Homo sapiens: one gene and its partner. The protein of the gene in region 2 interacts with the protein of the main gene of each other region in a pairwise test. Each region holds a gene or a part of one and is shown on either strand. Other genes may lie near its edges.

Evidence for each region.
Region 1: the proteins of GFI1 (region 2) and CHAF1A interact in binary tests that used the Homo sapiens proteins (3 or more experiments, as listed by UniProt).

Annotation. Positions count from the first base shown.
Region 1 is NC_000019.10:4,419,517-4,427,001, reverse strand, and holds part of CHAF1A (chromatin assembly factor 1 subunit A), read right to left. Parts: intron 4,437-7,485; coding exon 4,207-4,436; intron 3,668-4,206; coding exon 3,607-3,667; intron 3,197-3,606; coding exon 3,128-3,196; intron 1-3,127. UniProt on the Homo sapiens protein: Acts as a component of the histone chaperone complex chromatin assembly factor 1 (CAF-1), which assembles histone octamers onto DNA during replication and repair.
Region 2 is NC_000001.11:92,483,731-92,492,156, forward strand, and holds the start of GFI1 (zinc finger protein Gfi-1), read right to left. Parts: upstream 3,196-8,426; 5' UTR 2,996-3,195; intron 2,370-2,995; exon of another isoform or gene 716-2,369; intron 85-715; exon of another isoform or gene 5-84; intron 1-4. UniProt on the Homo sapiens protein: Transcription repressor essential for hematopoiesis. Functions in a cell-context and development-specific manner. Binds to 5'-TAAATCAC[AT]GCA-3' in the promoter region of a large number of genes.

The DNA of each region.
Region 1 (7,485 bases), on a different chromosome or scaffold from region 2:
TCCTGCCTCAGCCTCATGAGCAGCTGGGATTACAGACGCCTACCACCACGCCCGGCTAATTTTTGTATTTTTAGTATTTTTAGTAGAGACACCTTGTTGGCCAGGCTGGTCTCAAGCTCCTGACCTCAGATGATTCACCCGCCTTGGCCTCCCCAAATGCTGAGATTACAGGCATAAGCCACCGCACCTGGCCAAAAGGAGAAATTTCAGTATAATGAAAGACACTGTAGCTGGGCGTGGTGGCTCACACCTGTAATCCCAGCACTTTGGGAGGCCGAGGTAGGCGGATCACCTGAGGTCAGTAGTTCAAGACAAGCCTGACCAACATGGAAAAACCCCGTCTCTACTAAAAATACAAAATTAGCTGGGCGTGGCAGCACATGCCTGTAATCTCAGCTACTCGGGAGGCTGAGGCAAGAGAATCATTTGAACGCAGGAGGCAGAGGTTGTGGTGAGCTGAGATCATGCCACTGCACTCCAGCCTGGGCAATGAGCGAAACTTTGTCTCAAAACAAACAAACAAAAAACAACAAAGGCCGGGCACGGTGGCTCACACCTGTAATCCCAGCCCTTTGGGAGGCCGAGGCGGGCGGATCACAAGGTCAGGAGATCGAGACCATCCTGGCCAACACGGTGCAAACCCCGTCTCTACTAAAAATACAAAAAATTAGCGGGGCATGGTGGCGGGCGCTTGTAGTCCCAGCTACTCGGGAGGCTGAGGCAGGAGAATGGTGTGAACCCAGGAGGTGGAGCTTGCAGTGAGCCGAGATGGCACCACTGCACTCCAGCCTCAGCAACAGAGTGAAACTGTGTCTCAAAAAAAAAAAAAAAAAAGACTGTAAACAAAGAGGTAACAGGCTGAGACGAAATATCACGGAGAATGAAATACTAGACTATGTTAAAAAAAACTTACAGATCAGGCAAAGAAAAAAAAAGAAAATCCTGTAGAAAAATAGGTAAAAAAATAGGAATTGGCAAGTCATAGAAGAACTAAAATGGCAAACGAACAGAAAAAGATGCTCAACTGCACCAAGAGTCAAGTAAAAATGGAAAGTAAAACAATGTCAATTTTTAAAAATCCATCAGACTGGCAAAGTTAAAAGAAAATTAATCCCATAAAAATTGCAGTGATAGCAGAGAATGGGGAGGAAATTTCCACACATCGCCGGGAATGTACATCTGAGTTTCCCATCTGGCACGCACTCTGGCCATGGCTCATGATGCTTCAGCAATATGCTATTTTGTCCTAGAGGTGAACTCATGCTTACTTGGCTGTCCCAGAGGAATGCATGTGTGCAGAGAAGCATGTGCAGGGACCCCCCCTACACCACTGAGGGGCAAAGAGGTTGAGATAGTGGCAGGCTCTGTGGCTCATGCCTGTGATCCTAGCACGGTGGGTGGCCAAAGCGAGAGAAATGCTTGAGACCAGGAGGTCGAGACCAGCCCTGGCAACACAGTGAGACCCAGTCTCTACTAAAAATAAAATTAGGGAGGCTGAGATGGGCAGATCATCTGAGGTCAGGAGTTCAAGACCAGCCTGGCCAATATGGTGAAACCCCGTCTCTACTAAAAACACAAAAAATTAGCTGGGAGTGGTGGCAGGCACCTGTAATCCCAGCTACTCGGGAGGCTGAGGTAGAAGAATTGCTTGAACCCGGGAGACAAAGGTTAGAGTGAGCCGAGAGATAGCGCCACTGCTCTCCAGCATGGGTGACAGAGCAATACTCCGTCTCTAAATAAATAAATAATTTTTGTAAAAAAAGAGAGAAACCATATCATTGCATTATGAAGTATTATGCGGCAGTGAAAATACATGATGTGGATCTCTGGCTGTCACAATATGATGTGTAGGTACAACAATGTCACATTGTGCACCTTCAGGATACACAATTGCCATCAAATGTCTCAACATACAAATAAAAGGACAGGCCAGGTGCAGGGACTCACACCTGTAATCCAAGTGCTTTGAGAGGCCGAGGTTTGGAGGATCATTTGAAGCCAGGTCGTCGAGACCAGCCTGGGCAACATAGCAAAACCCAGTCTCTACAAAAAAAAATTAAAAAATTAGGCCGGGCACGGTGGCTCACGCCTATAATCCCGGCACTTCGGGAGGCTGAGGCGGGCGGATCACCTGAGGTCAGGAGTTCAAGACCAGCCTAGCCAACATGGTAAAACCCCGTCTATACTAAAAATACAAAAATTAGCCAGGTGTGGTAGCATGTGCCTGTAATCCCAGCTACCTGGGAGGCTGACACAGAAGAATCACTGGAACCCGGGAGGTGGACGTTGCAGTGAGCTGAGATCGCACCACTGTACTGCAGCCTGGGTGACAGAGTGAGACTCCATCTCAAAAAAAATAAAAATAAAAAATTAGCCAGGCATGGTGGCACATGCCTGTAGTCCCAGCTACTCGGGAAGGCTGAGGTGACAGGATCACCAGACCCTGAGAGGTCAAGGCTGTGGTGAGCTTTGATTGTGCAACTGCACTACAGCCTGGGTGACAGTGAGACCCTGCCTCAAAAAATAAATAAAGGCCAGATACATTAAAAAGAATGAAATACATCTAAATGTGGCAACATGGCACAAATCTGAGATAGCTAAGTACACATGTGTATAAATACAGTGAGTGGAGCAGGGAAAGGCACTGAAGGACCCCTAACATTGGAGATGGGCTCCCTCTGGGTAAAGGGGAAGGAGGGCTGTGGTTTCCATGCACAGATGGTGGCTCAGAAGGTCTGAGATGCCAGGTGACCGACGCCAGGCAGGGAAAGTAAACCTTTGTGAATTGTACTGTTGTTTTACAGCTAAACGTGCTCCCTCCTTAAGCCTAAGTTTCCCAAGGGTAAAAACATGGTGAATTTCTCTTACGCCTAACACAAAATTATTCATGAAGTAACCTCTGAAAACAGCACTGTTTAATCAGACATGCCACTTTTTACCTCTTTGGGACAAAGCGAAGGACAAAATATTGAGCCTCAAGACTTAACCAGAAATGGAAGTGCCCTAGGTCACTGGAGGCTCCCTCCCTCCTAATGAGAGAAGCTGGCTGGGGAGAGACCCTTTCACTTTCAGAAAGGAAAAGTCTAGCAGAGCTGAAACCCAAAAGCAAAGGCAGCCGGCTGCTCACCTTGGGGGCCTGTGGAGTCTTTGGTTTCTGGAAGAACCTCGTGATTTCGGCCTTCTCTGCTTTAATGCGCTGTGATGTTAAGAGATGGTGATGAGAAAGAGGAGAGGAAGAGGAACAGTATGTGTTGCAAAACATGCAAAGGCCCCCAGAACCGAACGTCAAGCATTTTAGCTTGAAGGCACTACTGTGATTTTCAGCTCTCAAAACCCACGGACCCGCAACTGAGCCAGCCAATCTCAAAATGTCCAAGTTGCCCTTGTGGGTAGAAGTGCCAGGATTGCAGGGCCAGTAGGCATGTGACAGCCAGCACTGGGAAGAAGCAACAAGAACGCATCTAGACAGACTCGCCCTCCCTGCGGGCGCCATTTGGTTTCCCCAAACCAAGAGAATATTAGGTGACGGCTGTGGCAAGAATTCCACTTTGGGCATCTGCTTCTCCAACGGGCTGGGACGGGGAAGCTCTGTGGGAAACACTCTACCTTCTCTTCTTCTCTTAACCGTTTCTCTTCTTCCTTTTTCCTTTTTTCCTCAAGTTTAGCCCTGTGAGACAGCAAATGACATTTCAGCCGACTCTTTGCTTTGGCTCTGGAAGGGACCGCAGCACTCAACTGTTAGTATATGGCAAGTATTTCATTTTACATTAAATGAATATAAGTTATTTTCATGTCTAGTATAAGGCTTTTACATAGGTCTTCACAATAAAAATGGAAAACAGTCAATAAAATTCTTCCTGTGACTAGAATATATATAAAAAACTTTAGCCAGTCAGAGCACAATTAGCACAGACAAAACCCACAATCCTGCAATGCAAATGCCTAAGTTGGTTGGGAACTGGAAGGATGGTCACAGCAGAGACAAGGGGTCCAGGGTGAGTTGGACGTGGGGGAGCACTAAAGAGCAGGGAGCTGCTTTCCACCGCTCCCACGTCAGGGCCCCACGGGCACCTCACGAAGGAGAAATGGGAAGGAACTGAAGGGAGCCGCCATCTGCCTGTGAAGTGGAAAGGCCCCATCAGAGTGGCCAGGAGCGGAATCCAGCAGCAGGGTGGCGGGCCCAGCATGGCCTCCAAGGACACTCACTCCAGGGCTTCCTGTCTCTCCTTGCGCCGCTCCTCCTTGAGCCGCTGCTTCTCCGCCTTCTCCTTCTCATCCTTCTCCCGCTTCTCCCGCCTCTCCTTTTCCTTAAGCTCCTTCTCTTCCTCCTTCTTCTTCTTGGCCTCCTCCTTGGCCCGCTTGGCCTCCTCTTTCAGCTTCTCCTTTTCTTCCCTTTCTGCACGTAACTTGAGCTGCTTGCCCAGACGCTCCTGATCCTACAAGACAGTGTGGCAAGTGACAGGTGGCCCTCCCTCCAACTCCCAGGAGGAAGCTCGGTTCACAGCATGGAGGACAGCACGGCCTGGACGGGATGAACAGAATTGAGGGACCAAGGCTAGGCATGGTGGCTCACGCCTGTAATTCCAGCACTTTGGGAGGCTGAGGTGGGTAGATCACCTGAGGTCAGGAGTTTGAGACCAGCCTGGTCAACAGGGTGAAACCCTGTCTCTACTAAAAATACAAAAATTGGCTGCGCGCGGTGGTTCACGCCTGTAATCCCAGCACTTTGGGAGGCCGAGGCAAGTGGATCACCTGAGGTCAGGAGTTCGAGACCAGCCTGGCCAAGATGGTGAAACCCCATCTCTACTAAAAATATTTTTAAAAAAAACTAGCCAGGCATGGTGGGCGCCTGTAATCCCAGCTACTGGGGAGGCTGAGGCAGAAGAATTGCTTGAAACCAGGAGACGGAGGTTGCAGTGAGCCAACACGGTGCCACTGCACTCCAGCATCAGTGACAGAGTGAGACTCCATTTAATAAAAAAAAAAAAAAAAATTAGCCAGGCGTGGTGGAGGGTACCCGTAGTCCCAGCTACTCAGGAGGCTGGGGCAGGAGAATCACTTGAACCAGGAGACGTAGGGTGCAGTGAGCTGAGGTCACACCACTGCACTCCAGCCTGGGCAACTGAGACTCAGTTAAAAAAATAAATGAATAAATAAGAATTCAGAGACCAGCTCCAGGAGGAGCCTCCAGTCAACAACTTTACACAGAAGTGATTTTATTTTTCTTGAGACAAAGTCTACTCTGTTGCCCATGGTGGAGTGCAGTGGTGCAGTCATAGCTGGCTGCAGCCTCGACCTCCCAGGCTCAAGTGATCCTCCCACCTCAGGCTCCTGAGTAGCAGGGGCTATAAGCACACACCACTATACCCAGCTATTTTTGTAATTTTCCTAGAGATGGGGTTTTGCTGTGTTGCCCAGGCTGGTCTTGAACACGTGGCCTCAAACAATCCTTCTGCCTTAGCCTCCCAAAGTGTTGGAATTATAGGCATGAGCCCCAGCACCCAGCCACAGAAGTGATTTTCATAATCCATTATGCTTCCTTCCATCATGAGAAAAATGTTAAGAATTAGCCCTGTGTCCTGGTACTTGTGGGAAATTCAATATAAGATTCATTTAAAACACAATCCTGCTGGGCTGAGGGGGCTCACACCTATAATCCCAGCACTTTGGGAGGCTGAGGCAGACAAATTGCTTGAGGCCAGAAGTTTGAGACCAGCCTGGCCAAGAAGGTGAAACCCCAAGTCTACCAAAAATACAAAAAAATTAGCTGAATGTGGTGGCGCACACCTATAGTCCCAGCTACTCAGGAGTCTGAGGCACAAGGATCGCTTAAACCCACAAGGCAGTTCAAGATCACGCCACGGCACTGCAGCCTGGGTGACAGAGCAAGACTCTGTCTGAAAAACAAAACAAAAAAACATTATTTATTTATTTGGAGATAGAGTCTCATTCTAGTGCCCAGGCTGGAGGGAGTGCAGCAATGCTATCTTGGCTCACTGCAACCTCCGTCCTGGGCTCAAATCAGTCCTCCTGCCTCAGCCTCCCGAGTAGCTGGGACCACAGGCACCTGTCACCACACCTGGCTAATTTTTGTAGAGATGGAGTCTCACTATGTTGCCCAGACTGATCTTTAACTCCTGCGCTCAAGCAATCTGTCCACCTCAGCCTCCCAAAGTGCTAGGATTACAGGCATGACCCATTGCAACCAGCCCAGGAATTCTTTTTCTTTTTAGTAGAGACACTACGTTGCCCAGGCTTGTCTCAAACTCCTGGGCTCAAGAAATCCTCCCACTTTGGCCTCCCAAAGTGTGGGATTATGGGGGCGAGCCACTACGCCCAGCCTTGTTTCAAATTCTTTAAGGAAGTAACACTTCATCACTACGTTCCTCATTCCAAAGACTTGGCAGTGGCCTGGGACACTCAGTCATTACGTAATCTGAAGTTCAATGTTAAACATGCTCAGCCAGGCGCAGGCTCCCACCTGTAATCCCAGCACTTTGGGAAGCCGAGGCAGGCGGATTACTTGAGGTCAGGAGTTCGAGACCAGCCTGGCCAACATGGTGAAACCCCGTCTCTACTAAAAATACAAAAATTAGCTGGGCATGAAGGCACGTGCCTGTAATCCCAGCTTCTTGGGAGACCGAGGCAGGAGAATCGCTCGAACCTGGGAGGTGGAGGTTGCAGGGAGCCGAGATCACGCCGCTGCACTCCAGCATGGGCAACAGAGCGAGACTGTCTCAAAATAAAAAAAAAAAACGCTCACCTGCCCAGCTCCACAGGTGCCCGCTCCTAACACTGCATGAGGACCACCTCTCATCCAATATGGGCTTCCCACACGTCTGGAGCCTGACAGCTCAGCTTTCAGTTTGGGTTAGGATATCTGCCCTTGTCTCTAAGGAAAAATTCTAAATGTGTTCCAATACATCTCTGGTAGCTTTAACAAAAGCCACAGAGACACAGCCTGGAAGATGTCTGATGTGCATTTCCTGCCAGTGTGCTGTGTGACTGCATCTGATATACGAGACACACGAGGAAGGTGACCGTCTGGACTGAACAAGGAGACTATAAACATAACTGGGTGAAGAGTCTCCCACCCTGTTGCTAAGCAGGAAATAGAAGGCTTCTAGAAACTGCAGGTGAATCAGATTTCTTCAGCCGCCGTTGGATACTTTCTCCGCTCCCCAACCCGGTGTGCGGGACTCGGAGGTTCCAATGAGCTTTAAAAGTGCTCTTGTTCCAAAGAATGAGATAAACTGTAAAAATAAAAATCAGGCTGGGCGTGGTGGCTCACACCTGTAGTCCCAGCACTTTGGGAAGCCAAGGTGGGTGGATCACCTGAAGTCAGGAGTTTGAGACCAGCCTGACAAACATAGCGAAACCCTGTCTCTACTAAAAATACAAAAAATTATCCAGGCGTGGTGGCTCGTGCCTATAATCCCAGCTACTCGAGAGGCTGAGGCAGGAGAATCGCTTGAACCCGGGAGG
Region 2 (8,426 bases):
TTACCAGGTGGCACTTGGACAGGTGGCGCGAACCCGCCGTCGTTGCCGCCGCCGCCACTGACACAGCTCAGCGGTAAAACCTGTCCCGGGGCCCTGTCTCAGGCCCCTTTCCTCCTCCCTGCCCACGCCCCCCAGCTCCTCCCCTTTCCTAGCGAAGCTCGCTCCGGCAATCAAACTCCCTGGAGAGCTGTAGTTCCCATCGGGTGGGTTACCCCAACTCAGCTACTCATCGCCTGCCTGGCTGTGCTTTACGGCTGGCGAGGGAGGGCGGGGACACGCGGATCGGTTTAGGGGCCGGGGATGCCCAGTGGTCGAGGACCCGGAAGGGGCAAGGAGCCAAGACCTCCAAGAGCCAGCTACCAACTGGAGTGAAAGGACCGGGGGGAGGGGGGAACAGAACACAAGATAAAACTGTGGGGCGGCGGGAGGACAGCAGCAGAGGGATTGGGGACAGCAGAGGCCAGAGAAAGGAGGTGGGAGAGCAAAGGGACAGGAAAGTGAGGGGAACAACAGACGACCAACCCCCGCCCCAGGAGAAACTCGCATCTGGGTGATCCCACTCGCCCCTCACTAGTGCCCCACGTAGGAGAAACTTTGCCCTTGGACTCCCGGCTGCGGCGGGCACCGGTCGAGGCTGCGGCGAGCCATCCCAGACCATGGAGACCTAACCTCGGGAATCAGGTCCCGGGAAAAAAGCACTTTCCGTTCTGCTCACCAAAAAATCTTGTCCTAGGGAGGTGGAGCCCGATCCACGAACGTTGACTGGGAAATGCTAGGTGTCCCGAGTCGGTAGTGCACCGACAATTTAGCAGACAAAAAAGACAGGACGCCAGAGCGCGCAGGCTGCATTAGCAGAGAGCGGGGGTCGGGCCCGGGCCCGGGAGGGAACTAGCTGCCCGGGGCGTCGCTCTCATTAACCCCCAATCAGTTCACCTAATACCAGGTCGAAATCTGAGCGCAGCGGGAGGGCGTGGCTGCGCCTGCCGCTAGGCTCCAGCCGGCTCCGGGGGCGGTACCCCACAGTCGAGGTGGTCTGGAGTAAACGAATCTGCCTTCCTCCCGGGGTGAAGGCGATGGTGACCGGGTTCACACGTGAGCTGCAGTACAGCAGTTCTCCGTGGCCTCGGCTGGTTCAGAAACGAGGGTGCTGGGAACTCTGGGCCGGGGCAGGACCTGCAGTCCTCCGGCTTCGCGCTGTTTCCACTGCCGGACTAGGAGCCCCTCGGCTTCCTAGGCAAGATGCAGGCCACACAGTCTACGTCTGTCCGTTGGCGCTCTCAGCTCAAACGAGTCCTACAGGCCTTGGTCCCTGTAGGGTGCAGGCCCCCTGCTCCAGATCCCCAGCCCCATTGTGTCCCCTTCTCCGGAGGAATGGGAATAGACCTGGGAGAAAAGACGCCTGGGACGTGTCGCGGGGCTCCCGCGAAGTTTCCCGCTACCCAAGCGCCAGAATGCCCCTAGGGGTGAGAGTGCCATCCGCCTCCCTCCGGGGTGGCTCCTAGGGCTAGAGCTTTGTCGCTTCCTGCACTTCTCGTCCGTACAATTAGACGCCACAAACCCCAAACCCAATTCTTTAAACAGCCACGAAACTCGGAAGAAAAGAAAAACGGAGTGGCGTTGTCCCGAGGGTCCCGCTGCAGCTTGGACCCACGTTGGCTGGGAGCGGGACAGATGGGGGCGGGGTAACTGTCAGCGCCGGAGCTGGGTCTGGGCTGGCGCCACCAGAGACCAGGCGGACGCGGAGGCCGCCTCCCCACCCGGGCTGTAAGCCCACGCCTCTCTCGCACCCCGGCCCGCTTTGCTGGTTCCTGTGGGGAGCGACAGAGTTTGGAGGAGATAGGGGCCCCGGGGCCTGGGCCGAGCGCGTGGGAAGGCAACCCCGCGCTGCAGCTGGCGCGGGAGGTGGGGCGGCCCCTCCGCGCGCTCAGGCCTCTCCTCACCGTCCGGGCCCAGGAAGGAGGGAGCCGAGGGCGCTAAGGGGGCGTCCTCCCGAGCGCAGCTGCCGCCGCCTCCCCACCAGATGTTTCCTTCCCTGGTGGATTTGGCTCCCCTGCCGAACCACCAGACCGCCTGCTGCGCGCCCCCAGCTCCAGATTTCCAGTCACACTGCGCGGGTCGCGCCCTAACCCAGCTGCCGGAGCTCTCTGGGCTCCCGCACGGCGGTCCGCAGCAGGTGGGAAACCGCCCGCGCCCTCTGATCGCCCCCGCAGTGCCAGTGCTCTGCGAGTCCCCGCGGCCGCCCCCACCAGGGCAGGAGGCGCAGAACAGGCTCGGCGGACCTACCTGCGGAGTCACGGCGCGGGCACCGCGCTAGGAGAGTTTTCAAACGGAATCTTGCTTTCGGGAGAGACCGCTCTATCTCTCTGACTTAAAAAAAAAAAAAATTCTCCTTCCGAGCTCAGCCCCCAAAACCACAAGCTTCACTTCCTGAGCGTTACTGAGTCGCTCGCATAGCCCTCCCAGACCTGCTCCCAACCCCCGTCGGGCGGCCGGGCGCGCTCCTTTGCGCAAGTGGCCAGGCGGTGGGGGGCCTGGCCTTTCCAGCCCGTCCCGCGCGCCCCTTAGTAGTCCTCCCAGTTCTCTCCCTGTGGGTCGGCAGGGGATGGGGGAAATTGGAGGTCCGGACACTTAGGCACTAGAAATGACTTGAAAGAAAATGAACTATTCTTGGCTCCAGGGAGACTTCCGCAGCGAGAGAAGCCACAGATTGAGGACACAGATTGACTGGCGAGAGAGGGGTGGGGGGCGCCCCGCTCCGAGGACCCTCCCCGCCCCTCAGGCCTCGGTCACCCGCCCCCCCCACCCCCGACCCCGCCGCCTCCTAGGGCTGCACCACCCCCGGGTCGGGACCGTGAATCACCGGCCCGCGGTGCCGCCGGCCTGGAGCCCGGCGAGTGGCCACGGCGTCCGCAGAGCGAAACCTGCCCCGCAGGCCCCGAAATAGCTTGTTGTGGAAACACTTGGGGATAAATACGCCCAACGAGGCTGAAAATACCTTGACACCCAATCCGAGAGGTTTGCTCATTTCCCTTCGGATTTAGGTAATGGTTAAATTTGGAAGAGGTGGGCGAGCGCCGAGCCCCCGGCGGAGAGGGCCCTGGCGGCGCGTCCCGCGGGCGCCCGGCGGGACCGGTGGGCGCACCCTCCCTGCGCGGAGCTCGCCGGCTCTCGACCGGGTCCGCTCAGCCTTCGACTAATTTCCGGTGGTCGGAGCTGCAAAATTAAAGGCCGCGCGGGGGCAGCGCCGGCGGCTGCTAGGCTGACTCCGCCCTGCCGGGGCAAGCCAGGGAGAGCGGGACCTCGCACGCGGGCTCTGCCACCGCCTGAGGTCATACCCAGGCACTGGGTGTTGGCGGGAGCAGTAAAGCGCCATAAAAGCACCACTTGGATGACTATTGCAAAGTAAGCCTTCTTCGCTCGGATTCTATGTTTCATGAGGGTAGGCACTGGATCTTCATCTTTATGTCCTAGGCGGGCTCTTAACAAAAGGCTGTGGACTGAGTAAATGAATGAGTGGGGTTAATTAACTAATTAATTATATTAATAGAACAGGGGGAAAAAACTTAAAACCTAACTCATAGATACATGAACAAATGCAGCAACCTCCAACGCTAGACTGTATGCCATGACCCATAGTGTGTGGCCTGCTGTGTATACTCAAAGCCTACACCCTTTGCTCATTGGAGTGGATGGATGTTGTAGTCATGTTACTTTTCAAAATGAATTGACTTGGATTTTGATCACAACTTCGTGCACAATAGGCCTCCAATGTCAGACATGCACAAGGAGAAGAGAGTGGTGCTCCCCAGTTCTTGCAAAATAACTACCATGTTCTAGGTTAATCTTAAATTGTTATGGGGGGGGAAGCCCTTAAAGCTCTTTTTCTAGAAACAGTTTTTAAATTATTCTTATTTTGCACTGTAAATTTAAAATTTTGCAGGGAATATTTGGTTAGTATAGCAGTGCTTCGAGCATGTATTAATAAATTATACGTTTTGTTAAGCAATGACCTGTGCCCCTATTGTATGCCAGGCGCTGGGCAAATCTTGTCTGCCTAGCTGTCCTCCTTCATTTGCTCAACACATCCCTTCTTTATATATAAATGCAGAGGCAAGCAATTTTGGTCAGAAAGGAAAATTAAGGACATTTTGTTAATATTTTATTTCTTGTGTGCTTTGTCCTGGCCTAAGGTATAAAAATCTCACAGTAGTGCAAAAACAAATCTTTCCCTTATTCCCTTCTCTCCTACTCGATAGCAGAAAAAAACAAATTTTTAGAATAAAATTATAAATGGGACAAAATAAAATTTCTTATCAACCAAGTTCTAGAGAAATGGTTGGACTATTTCCTTTGCATATTAGCAAGTTCAAAGTCAAAATTTCTCGAAAAGGTGCTGTGACTATTTTATAGTTTAGTTGAGTGTTGCTGTTTGAAGTCTCAGAAAACTTGAGGGAGCCCATGAAGGGGGCAGATAAGCACCTTGAGCAGTGAGCAGTATCACCTTAGAATAAATCCCTTTCATTCAGATTTAGTCTAGTCATTTTGCTTTTCATTTGCCCTTCACAGACTCTTGGGATTTCTGAGTTTGAAAAAGAAAACTGAGAACTGGAACAGGGACACGCAGAAAGGAGCAGGTGGGAGGGAGATGGCACTGAATTTCCCTTTATGTCTTTTACATGTTGAACCATGTGTATGTAGTACTAACTCAAATAAATAAATACACATTTAAAAAGTATTTAACAAGTATTCAACACGTTTAAAAAGTATTTAACAATACTTTTTAACAACACAACACTCCCGGGTGTATAGTGTTGAAGTGTGACTCCCACACTTGGGGAAGAATAGGAGAAAGGTAAGAAGAGGGGAACCCAGAGAGGTTAAGAACCTTGCCAAGGACAGTGAAGAGCTAGGACTAGAAATAACGATACAATGAACCCATCTCTGACTTCCTGCTACTCCAAACTACCTCTTGCTTCTATTAAACTAAGGGCAAAGAGAATAAGCCACCCCTCCATGAACATTTTTAGAAGCTACAAATACTCCCTCTCCCTCCATATATTCCTTTGGAATTGAAATAGATCTAATGGTAAGCAAAATGTATACCTGAGGCACAATTTTCTATAAATAGGGTCTTTCCAAAGGAATAATTTTACATTTACTGCCTTTTCAATAATTTGAAACTAATTGTTTCAAATATTTAGAAACTAATTGTTTCTAAATAGCAATAATAATGTATCTGTCGATGCCAAATAACAACTGACCTTCTCATACCACAAACATTTCCAAGCCTTGGCCAGTAGCCCATTTATTTCAAGCAGCCTCTCATAGATCAGAATTTCCCTACAACAGAAGATTTGAGACATTAAAAAAAAAAAAGTGGAGATGGAGTCTCGTTATGTTGCCTAGGCTGGTCTCAAACTCCTGGCCTCAAATGATCCTCCTGCCTCAGCCTCCCAAAATGCTGGGATTACAGGCGTGAACCACTGTGCCTGGCTGAGACATTTTCAAAAAGAAAATTGTAACAGGATATTACCAGTATCTTGTTTATTTTTTCACAAAGCTTTACAATTATGATCTCTGTCCTTTGTGGGACGGCATGGGAAAAGTGGGTGATCCTGAAACCCCAGGGAGGGGCAATACCCCCATTTCCAGAATACATTTCTATGTTTGCCTCATTTGATTCTCACCATGATGATACCAGGAAGGGAAAAAAGAGTTCAGGCATTCAAAAGCTAGTAAGATGTGATTGTCAATCTCTGTTCTGCTAGTACCAGCTTTGAGACCTTGGATAAGTTAGCTCAACTCTCAGCCTGTTTCTCACCTGTAAAGTCGGAATACTGGTACCTACCACGCAAGACTGTGGAGCAACCTTTTTTTTTTTTTTTTTTTTGAGATGAAGTATTGCTCTTTTGCTCAGGTTGGAGTGCAGTGGCGTGATCTCTGCTCACTGCAACCTCCACCTACCGGGTTCAAGCGATTCTCCTGCCTCAGCCTGCCGAGTAGCTGGGATTACAGGCATGCACCACCACGCCCAGCTAATTTTTGTATTTTTAGTAGAGACGGGGTTTTACCATGTTGGCTAGGCTGGTATTGAACTCTTGACCTCGTGATCCACTTGCCTCAGCCTCCCAAAGTGCTGGGATTACAGGCATGAGCCACAATGCCCAGCTGGAACAATCTTTTAATTTGCACTCTTTACCTGTTCATTTGGGCAGCAAGAATGGGAGAATGCTCCAAATGAGGGTTTCTGAGTTTTAAATATAAACGTATAAGAAATTATGCTATATTATTTGTATATTATAAATAATAATATAAATAAGACTATATTACAAATTATGCTACATATATCTGATAAGAAAAGAATAAAACTCTGTAAAACAACTTTCAAGTATTCTTGCTCTATTATTTAACAAAAATTATAATCGTATTACAGATACAACTGAGTAGTCTGCTTTTCTTCCCGAATATTATAATTATTTTTCTTTTTTCTATTCTCTTTATTTTCCTGTTTTCTTAAATGGAATATAAACTTTTTATAGTAAAAATTATTTAAATAAAAATCATGACAATCATCTTCCTTGCTTTTTATATACAATCTTTCATTTTCAATTGCTATAAAAAAGTTCTATCAGCTAGTTTACTATAATTTACTCAATCACTCTCATCTTACTATTTAGCTTGTTTCGAGTTTTTACTATTTTAAGTAATACAATGAAAAGATTTTTGAATATAGCTTTCCCTACATTTGGAATTATTTCCTTAGGATATATTTTTAGGGGTGAAATTTCTAGATCCAACAATGATTATTTGTACGGTCCTTGATACATACCAGAACAAGTTTTATGGATGGCGCTTATGTAATGCATAAGCCAAAAGAATTCATACCACTTAACAGTTAAAAGACTACAAAAATAAACTAAGGAAAAGTTTGACTTGGATTAAAGACCAGATATAGAACTGGTCTTTATTTTATGTACAGGAAGTACTTGTTAGAACCACACCCTGTCATATTGCCATGGTTTTATCCTCATGTATACTAACAAACTATTTAATTTTTGTCTTTGGATTAGGTGTCATGATAGGTGTAGTCAAACTGAAATAAGAATTACATATATTTTAATTGTATTAATTCAAAGAAAATAAATGCAAACTGATAACTGTGTGATGCCTTAACTTGAATGACAGGTAATATAATTATCCCCTTCTAATCTTATAAGAAGCAGGCTATCAAAATAGAATTCCACTGACACCATAAGTCAGAATACGATTTAATGGTACCATCATTTGTGGGAAGTGGGTAATGTTTTTTGTACCAGCTCATGCAAAAATTGGGAAATTAAGTAAAGGAGAAACATGGAGATAAGTTAATAGAAGACTTAAGGTATAAGAACCAACTTTGTATTAATATTTTTTACTTTTCAAACATGAAGAAAAACATTTGCTTTTAATAAACATTTTGGGACTGATATATTTAAATCTCATTACATTTAAAAATATTATCTATTACTATAAAGTTTAAATTAGGCTTTTACATAAAGGATTTCAAACATCTGAAGAGGGAGGAGACTGTCAGCTTTGGTGTTCAGAGTTCAAATAAGAAAATTGTTAATCTCACCACATACGTATTTTTACATTGTTCCTAAGAATAGATTGAACGAAGTGTCATCTTACTGTGAGCTATGTGATATGACTCCTCATAGAAACACAGCCAGTGTGAACTTTTATAGGAAAAAAAAGGAGTATAGTTTGCTTTGTGAATGGAAAATCAAACGAGAGAAAATGCAAAAATTATCTTTCTTTTGAGTTTTTCACCATTTCCTCCAGTATGTTTGGTGATTAGTTCACCCTACCCCAGATGAAACACTTCACTTTAAAATAGTACAGCCTATATATTGTAAATTTTAAAAATTACTCACAAAACACAACTCCCTTAAAGGAAATATATGACCCCATATCTGGAGGTAAGGTGGGAGTTGAGGCTTCTGAAAATCTCTGGCCGCTGCTGTCTGCATGAGGCGGGGCTTGGAGGATCATCCCACATGAACAACCTCAGGCTCGCCCAAAGAGACAGACAGAAGGACAGCATGAACTGATGATAGGTAGATGCAGCCCACTGGATGTTCCACCTCAGCTGCTATCCTGGGCTTCATAGAAGAGAAAGAAATGCTGGGAGTTCTCCAAGGCAGGCATTCTGGTCATTTCTGTTTTATGGATAAGGACACCAGTGGTCCATACGTGGGAAAGGAAGGGAAAAAAAAAAGGGGGAGACACCAGTGGTTTAAGAAGCCCAGGTTCTGATAACTAGCAGCTTTCTTATTCCAACCAAATCTGTTGATTCCAAATATTGTTTCTTTCCACCAAATCACATTACTTGTTTCACATCCAGCATAGGGTAGAAAAGCCTGGAGCCAAAAGTCACGTGCCTG